Linked DNA regions of Homo sapiens. The protein of the gene in region 1 purifies or fractionates together with the protein of each later gene. This does not show direct contact. Each region holds a gene or a part of one and is shown on either strand. Other genes may lie near its edges.

The links.
Region 2: the proteins of ZNF566 (region 1) and PPP2R1B purify together in Homo sapiens (co-immunoprecipitation; one large-scale study listed by IntAct). This does not show direct contact.

Annotation. Positions count from the first base shown.
Region 1 is NC_000019.10:36,486,646-36,491,143, forward strand, and holds the start of ZNF566 (zinc finger protein 566), read right to left. Parts: upstream 2,917-4,498; 5' UTR 2,841-2,916; exon of another isoform or gene 2,829-2,840; intron 2,791-2,828; exon of another isoform or gene 2,768-2,790; intron 1-2,767. UniProt on the Homo sapiens protein: May be involved in transcriptional regulation.
Region 2 is NC_000011.10:111,742,289-111,746,212, forward strand, and holds part of PPP2R1B (serine/threonine-protein phosphatase 2A 65 kDa regulatory subunit A beta isoform), read right to left. Parts: intron 1,243-3,924; coding exon 1,088-1,242; intron 378-1,087; coding exon 235-377; intron 1-234. UniProt on the Homo sapiens protein: The PR65 subunit of protein phosphatase 2A serves as a scaffolding molecule to coordinate the assembly of the catalytic subunit and a variable regulatory B subunit.

The DNA of each region.
Region 1 (4,498 bases):
GGGCAGCAAGAGCGAAACTCTGTCTCAAAAAAAAAAAAAAAAAATGAAAGAAAGAAAGAAAAGAACATTTTTAAAAAATTTACGAAGGGGAAAATGGACACAAAAAAGAAGATATACAAATGGCCAGTAAACATACAAAAAGGTGCTGAACATCATTTCACATCAAGGAAATACAAATTAAAACTATGATGAGGCTGGGTGCAGTGGCTCACACTTATAATCCCAGGATTTTGGGAGGCTGAGGCGGGCGGGAGTTTCACATGGTGAAACTCTGTCTCCACTAAAAATACAAAAATTAGCTGGGTGTGGTGGCACGCACCTGTAATCCCAGCTACTCGGGAGGCTGAGGCAGGAGAATGGCGTGAACCCGGGAGGCGGAGCTTGCAGTGAGCCGAGATTGCGCCACTGCACTCCCGCCTGGGCCACAGAGCGAGACTCCGTCTCAAAAAAAAAAAAAAAAACAAACCAAAACAAGACAAAACAAACCAAAACAAAAACCTATGATGAAACTGCACCACACAACCAATAAAATAGTTAAAAGACTAACCATACCAAATTACGGAGAGGATATGAAGCAACTGGAACTCTCATACATTGCTGGATGGAGTGTAAACTGGAACAACCACATGAGAGCTTCGTAGTATCTATTAAACATTAGCCTACCCTATGATCTAGCAATGCCACTCCTAAGTATTAACCCGGGAGAAAAGCCTTCATGTGTTCACCAAAAACACAGCAGAGTGTTCACAGCTGCAGCATCATTTGTAACAGCCCCAAATTGGAAGCTACCCAAATATCCATCAACAATGTAATCGACTAATATACTACAATATATCCCCAGTATAGTGAGAGCTAAGTACAATTACACTGAACAACATGAATGAATTTCACAAACATAATATATAACAAAAGAAGCCTGGCATAAAACAGTACATGCTGCATAATTGCATATATACATGAAGTTCAAGAATGTGTAAGACAGCCAGATGCACTGGCTCATGCCTGTAATCCCAGCACTTTGGGAGGCCAAGGTGGGCGGATCACCTGAGGTCAGGACTAGCTTTGCCAACATGGGGAAACCCTGTCTCTACTAAAAATACAAAAATTAGCCGGGTGTGATGGGTGCCTGTAATCCCAGCTACTCAGGAGGCTGAGGCAGGAGAATCGTTTGAACCCAGGAGGCGGAGGTTGCAGTGAGCCAAGATTGCATCACTGCACTCCAGCCTGGGTGACAAGAGCAAGACTCTGTCTCAAAAAAAAAAAAAAAAAAAAAAAAAAGAATGGGTAAAACTAGTTAATGATAGAATTCTGAATAGATTGTGTGGGGGAGAAATTACTGAGAAGTGGTATGAGGGAAGCATCTCAGGTCCTGGCAAAGTTCTTTGTATAGATCTAAGAGTGTTACACAGCTGTACACTTAAGATTTGCACACTTTATATAGGCTCTATGTATCTATTGACAGCCTCCTGCTCTGTTGCCCAGGCTGAAGGGCAGTGGTATGATCATGGCTTCCTGCAGCTGCAAAGCACTGGGCTCAAGCGATCCTCTCATCTCAACCTCCTGAGTAGCTAGGACTTATAGGTGCCAGCCACCATGCCCGGCTAATTTTTTATGTATGTATGTATTTATGGTAGAGTTAGGGTCTCACTATGTTGCCCAGGCTGGTCTCCAGCTCCTGGCCTCAAGTGATCCTCTCACCTTGGCCTGGCAAAGTGCTGGGATTACACGCATGAGCCTCCACACTTGGCCTACAAAAATTTTTTTAACTCTTGGAACTATGCTTTGGTAGGGATATGGAGCAATAAGATATTTCAAACATTGCTGTTCAAGTACAAATTTGTGCAGCCACTCGGGTATATATTTTGACACTGTTTAGTAAAGTGGAAGATATATGAACCGGCAATTCTGCTGGTAAATAAACTCAAGCATGTGTACCCCATGTGAAAGAATGTGGCTGTGTTGTTTATAAAATGAAAAGCTATAAATAACTAATAGGGCATCATTACTAGAAAGGATGAATAATTGTGGTATACTTCAGAAGGGAGAATATAGCAAAGAAATTGAATTAACCGCGATTTTATCTAATAGGGATGATTCACAGAATTGTAAAAATAAACCAAAGACAGTATGACAACATTCATATAAAGTTTTAAAACGGGGAAAAACTGGAGTATAATGCCTAGAGAAGTATACGTAAGTGATAAAACCTCACACTGTGTGACTTACCCTGCCACACAAACCTGATCACACTCCCACCATGGGGACATTCAGCTACAGACAATCCACGCCCAAAGCAACAGGGTCGCACACGCAGGGCCTCTATCGGTCACATAAGCACAAGTGCACGCTTACCGAGGAGGCAGTCACAGTCACAACCACATTGTCACAGTCGGCGCACACCTGTACCGGGTCACAGTCACGATCACACATTAACCACAGCCACACACACAGATAGAAACATGCAGTTACTCGCAGGTATCCCCACCTGAACTCTGCCGCACACAGTCACACAGCATATAGTCGCACACCACTACGGGGACAAACGCAGTAACACTCAACCAGGCACAAGCTCCCCACAGCCGCACACACAATGCCGCACGTGGTCCTGCTCCCTCTCACACACACACCAGCAGCCACAGTCTCCGAGGCCGTGCTGCACACGGTGTGAGCGTTGGAAACACACTCATCACAAGGGCAGCCTGTCACAATCGCGCGATCATTCACCACACACCTCCACACAGACGCAAGCGCACGCTTTCAATCTCACCTCCACCGCCGCACAAAGCCGAGGCTTGGCCCCCGGCCCCGCCCTCTCCCGGGTTTCTCACCTCAGGCCTTACCAGCTTTCGAAGCAGCAGAACCCTCCCCGGCACTGGGGTAGTTGCTGGTAAAGCCCTGAGGGTCCCGCCAGCGCGTGAGTTGGAAGCTGAATTACCGCGAGAAGTACAGTCTTGCCGAGGAGACCTCTGGGAAGCGTAGTCAGAGACGTATCAAGGCCGGACAAGATGGTTCCCGATCGTCAGAATTCCTGTCCGCGCCTTGCGTCAGCCCCGCCGAAAGGATCGCCCCCCCTAGTCAAACCGCTCGCGCCCCAGAGGCCTCATGGAGTCCCGCCTCAGGCTCGGGCCTTGGCCCCCAAAGAAAGCCACTCCGACGTGTTTGAGATGGGCTTAGTTCCCGGACCCGTCCTACTGCCCCCAGGCGCTGGACAGCCTCAGAAAGAGGACAAGTCTGCATGGAAAGATAATCGCACAACTGAGCCTTCTGGGAGATGTAGTTCGGAGCTGGGAAGGCGGTTGGACCCTCCGAAAGTCATCTTAATTGCTCTCACAGATAAGCCGGTGCTGGGCTGCCGGCCTGAGTACTGTGCGCCCAGAGTGCGCAGGCGCAAACATCCTGGGTTGCTGTTTTGGCCTCTTTGTTCGGGCGTGAATTTTGTTTATTGCTCCTTAGTGCAGAGGGGTTATGGGACCAGAGGTTGTGAGACTCAGAAGTGGTTGGGGACGCAGAAGGGGTGTAGACCAGGAACCTGCGACCTGATGGGGGGAGGTCGAAGGGAAAGGAATCGCCAAACGTGGGACAGGTTTGGAGAGGCAGAAAGAGAGGAGTCTGAAATTGCAAAGGGCAGGTGTTATTCTGACTTCTGTGTGCTTTGTGATAAATGAGTGGGGCAGGAAGTAAGAGGAGTTTCACTTTCTCCTTCTGCAATTATTTGTGTACTTGGACTAAGTGTATCTCATGGCCAGTATTTGACTGCTTTTGACCTATAAAGGTATTGTATACACAGTCATGCATAGTTTAATAATAAGGATATATGCTCTCCCCACGGTCTCCCTCTCCCTCTCTTTCCACGGTCTCCCTCTGATGCCGAGCCAAAGCTGGACTGTACTGCTGCCCTCTCGGCTCACTGCAACCTCCCTGCCTGATTCTCCTGCCTCAGCCTGCCGAGTGCCTGCGATTGCAGGCGCGCGCCGCCACGCCTGACTGGTTTTCGTATTTTTTTGGTCTCCACCAAACACAGGGTTTCGCTGTGTTGGCCGGGCTGGTCTCCAGCTCCTAACCGCGAGTGGTCCGCCAGCCTCGGCCTCCCGAGGTGCCGGGATTGCAGACGGAGTCTTGTTCACTCAGTGCTCAATGGTGCCCAGGCTGGAGTGCAGTGGCGTGATCTCGGCTCGCTACAACCTCCTCCCAGCCGCCTGCTTTGGCCCCCCAAAGAGCCGAGATTGCAGCCTCTGCCCCGCCGCCACCCCATCTGGGAAGTGAGGAGCTTCTCTGCCTGGCCGCCCATCGTCTGGGATGTGAGGAGCCCCTCTGCCTGGCTGCCCAGTCTGGAAAGTGAGGAGCGTCTCTGCCAGGCCGCCCATCGTCTGGGATGTGGGGAGCGCCTCTGCCCCGCCGCCCCGTCTGGGATGTGAGGAACGCCTCTGCCTGGCCGCGACCCCGTCTGGGAGGTGAGGAGCGTCTCTGCCCGGCCGCCCCGTCTGAGAAGTGAGACCCT
Region 2 (3,924 bases), on another chromosome or scaffold:
CTAAAGAAATTCTCAGCAAAATCAGCTTCAGACAAGGATCTACACATTTACAGAGCTTAAATATAAAAGTCATAGTGGACATCCTCAAAAATAGTTGCTAAATTATTTTCTTTAAGCAAACCCAGATCTTAAGTAAAGTGAAAATCCCTGAACTTAATTTTAGCTAATTACTCCCCACTATAAGGTAAAATTTAAAGTACACTTTTAAAACAAGACTAAACACTAAAATCTTACTTGGTATCTAGAATTGGTCCAATCTTTTGTAGAGATTTGGCCACATTGAAGCGAACATTTGCTACTTGGTCTCCTGCCATTTTTAATACGATGGGCAGCATTTGCTTAGTAGTTATTTCCTGACCACAGGCCTCAGACAGTGCCTAGAAAAATAAGTAAGATGGCACATTTAAAATACTTTAAAAAATTCCAAAATCTAATGAAACAAATTAATATTTAATAAGAAAATAATTGACCAATAGGAAAATATTTCTAGTTTGAGCAGCTGAGTGGGGGACACAAGAATCATTCAAATGATCAGAGAATTAGACCAGAATTCACAAATAAGTTGAACTTTTAAAATACTGTAGTTTTGTTCTTTGTTTTTTTTTTTTTCAGGCGGAGTTTTGCCTTGTCGCCCAAGCTGGAGTGTAGTGGCGCGATCTCAGCTCACTGCAACCTCTGCACCCTCTGCCCCCTGCCCAAGGTTCAAGGGAGTCTCCTGCCTCAGCCTCCCAAGTAGCTGGGACTACAGGCATGCACCACCATGCCCGGCTAATTTTTGTATTTTTAGTAGAGACAAGGTCTTGCCATGTTGACCAGGCTAGTCTCAAACTCCTGACCTCAGGTGATCTGCCCGCCTCAGCCTCCCAAAGTGCTGGGATTACAGGCATGAGCCACTGTGCCCAGCCAATACTGTAGATTTTAACATGAATTTTAAAATTGACATTTTCTCTCATCTCCTGTCTATTCCAATTAATCAATACAAGACATATATTCCAAATAGAAGACAGTATACTGATAATTCAGAAATAGTCATGAATAATTTTGCTTTAATGATTAAGCTTAGCAATAACAGTTATGTTATACTTACATTAATGCAGAATAAAGTGGTCATTCTATGCAAGTAATTAGGATCATTTGCCATTACTAACACTTTGGGAACAATAGTATTTTGGGCCCACTCTGTACCAAACTTCTGAACTAGTTTCATGAGGTTGTTGGTGGCAGCTTCTCGGATGGCGTATACTGCAGAAGAGGTCAAAAACATGTTCTCATATCGCTTATTGTTTTTTAAGCATAACCTAGTTTACTTACATGAAAATCAAATGTGGACCAAAAGCAAAACCCCTCTGCAATCAGACTCCACATGTAATCATGCTGCAATGACAAGCATGCTCAGCTCCAACTCAGTTTCCAAGTGTGCATATCCACAGAAAAGGGATGCAAGGAGCTCACCATATGCATCATCAATTATTTAACAAATACAAGTGCCTACTATGTGCTACAAAAAGAACACAGAAGATACTTTCCCTCACAAGAAATATGCTCTTATCAGAGAAATGAAAGCTAACACACTCCATGAAGTCACATGGTGTAAGAGCAATTAGAATGAAGTGTGGCATTGTGTAGTAAAGGCTGTGAGGGTTGTAGCAGTGCAGAGAAGAGTGAACAGGGAAGGTCTAGGAAGGCTTCGGCACAGAAAGAAGCCTTGACTGGGCAGTGAAGATTTGGGAGGATCTGTGTAAGTGGAGAGAAGCGGGGAGGAATTCCTAGAAAGGGTAAAGACATGTATCCAGGACACAAACAGAAAAAACTGAAACCTGTGAGACTTCTAAGTTAGACAATTAGGGTGGACCCAGACTGCAGAGCATTATGAAAGACTTAGATTTGATTAGGAAAAACAGTGATGGGTTTTTAAAGCAAACTTGTGACCTGATGACCAATGTGGAATTTTAGCAAGATTATTCCAGCAACATCACGGAGAAGCGACGTTGACTGAGAAAGACAACAAGGAAATGGTGTAGAGGCCACTGTGGTCATCTATACAACAGCAAATACAAACATCAGACTGACTTGCTTCCTCTCCATGAAAATGCTTAGGTTGAAACAAGATGTCAAATGTCTTTGAATCAATGTGCCTGCCTTAACATCTAATAATTCCCTATATCCTTTGATCATTTATCAAAGACATAAAGCTAGATAATAAAGGTCTCAGCTACAATCCTCTCACAATTAGTTGCTATATACAGCACTGAACAAAAACAAGCCTGGTGTCACTTCACTTTACAGATCCAGTAAGACTCAAAATTTGGGCTCAGATTAACAAATCGAGGGTGGTAGGTACTAATTCCTTATTCTACTTCTCTCCCCAGGTGGGCCCAACCTTCCTGGGATGATAGGAAGGGCAGGAATAGCTATCCAAGCCACAGTCCCAGTCCTAGGCAATTTATACAAGCCTCCAACCAAGAAATAGGCAACTTCTTCTATTCATAGATCCTTCTGGGCAATGATGTTGAGAACAAGCAAGACAGCATAGACAAGTGACCCATACAACTGATTATCAACACTTAAACTGACAGTCTACAGGAGAAGCAACCTTTCGGTAAGACTCAGATGCACTAAGGAGCAAACTCAAGTCAACTGTTTTACTGTAATACAGATTCCTTCCCTTCATATCCATAGTCTTTGTCTTTGGCCCAAACCCTTCCCTGTCCTCCCCACTAAAGAGGAGCTAGCTAGAGTATTTGTGTCTTCTCCTCTAATTTTTTTTTTTTTTTTTTTTTTGAGACAGAGCCTCACTCTGTCTCTCAGGCTGGAGTGCAGTGGCGAGATCTCGGCTCACTGCAACCTCCGCCTCCTGGGTTCAAGCAACTCTCCTGCCTCAGCCTCCTGAGTAGCTGGGATTACAGGCGCCCGCCAACACATCCAGCTAATTTTTGTGTTTTTAGTAGAGACAGGGTTTCACCATGTTGGCCAGGCTGGTCTCGAACTCCTAACTTCAAGTCATCCACCCGCCTCAGCCTCCCAAAGTGCTGGGATTACAGGCATGAGCCACCATGCTCAGCAAATTACTATTTTTTTTAACACGCTTTAGATTTTTATCATAATGCCATTACCATAGGAAGGGATCTCTACTGCCAGAAAAACCAGAGACTGGGGAACACACATGCATAGCCTTGACCAAGACCTTAACTGCACTGAACTCTACTTGGCCAGATGCCTACTATGTTCTTGGTTCCTCTGACTGTTTTCAGAAGAATGCAAACCATTCCAGAGTTCTGCCTGTTTTCTTTTGTCTATTTCTGTCTCTTTCTCTCTCCCCATCTCCTCTCAAGGCCTGGCTGACCTGCAAGGTTTCTTTGAATGTCTATCTATGCTCAATAACTGATACCTTCTCCTTTCTCCTATAATAAATAAATAAATTTCCCTTCTACATTCCTCCCTCTGATCAAAACTGTCTACTCAACCACAGGAATATAGGTGAGTGATACTTTCTTCCTTATACTTCTCTGGAATTTTCACAATGTTCTTTTAGTAGTTACCTAACTAGGGGAAAAGTTTCAAAAACTCTAACTGATCCAGTGATCATTATATAACACTTATCTGAAATGCAAAAGCAAAAAAGCTCCTGTGATTAAGTACAAAACAATTTCAGAGCTGTTATTTCATTGGTTCATGGAACTCTTGCAGTCCCCACTTCAGCATGCTGCTGCAGTGAAATAAACAAGGGTTTCTCCTGCTCCCAAACTGAAAGAGAAAATCCGAAAAGAGGAAGGAGTAATCAAGTTGCATAGAGAAGACAATCTTACAGAGAAAGGGTGCCAGGAATTTAATTCTTTGTGGAATATTAGAACTTTAAAAATTCCTCAAAATAAAACACCATCTTAATCTAAAATGCCAACTTTTAAAGAAAGCATAGAATGACTT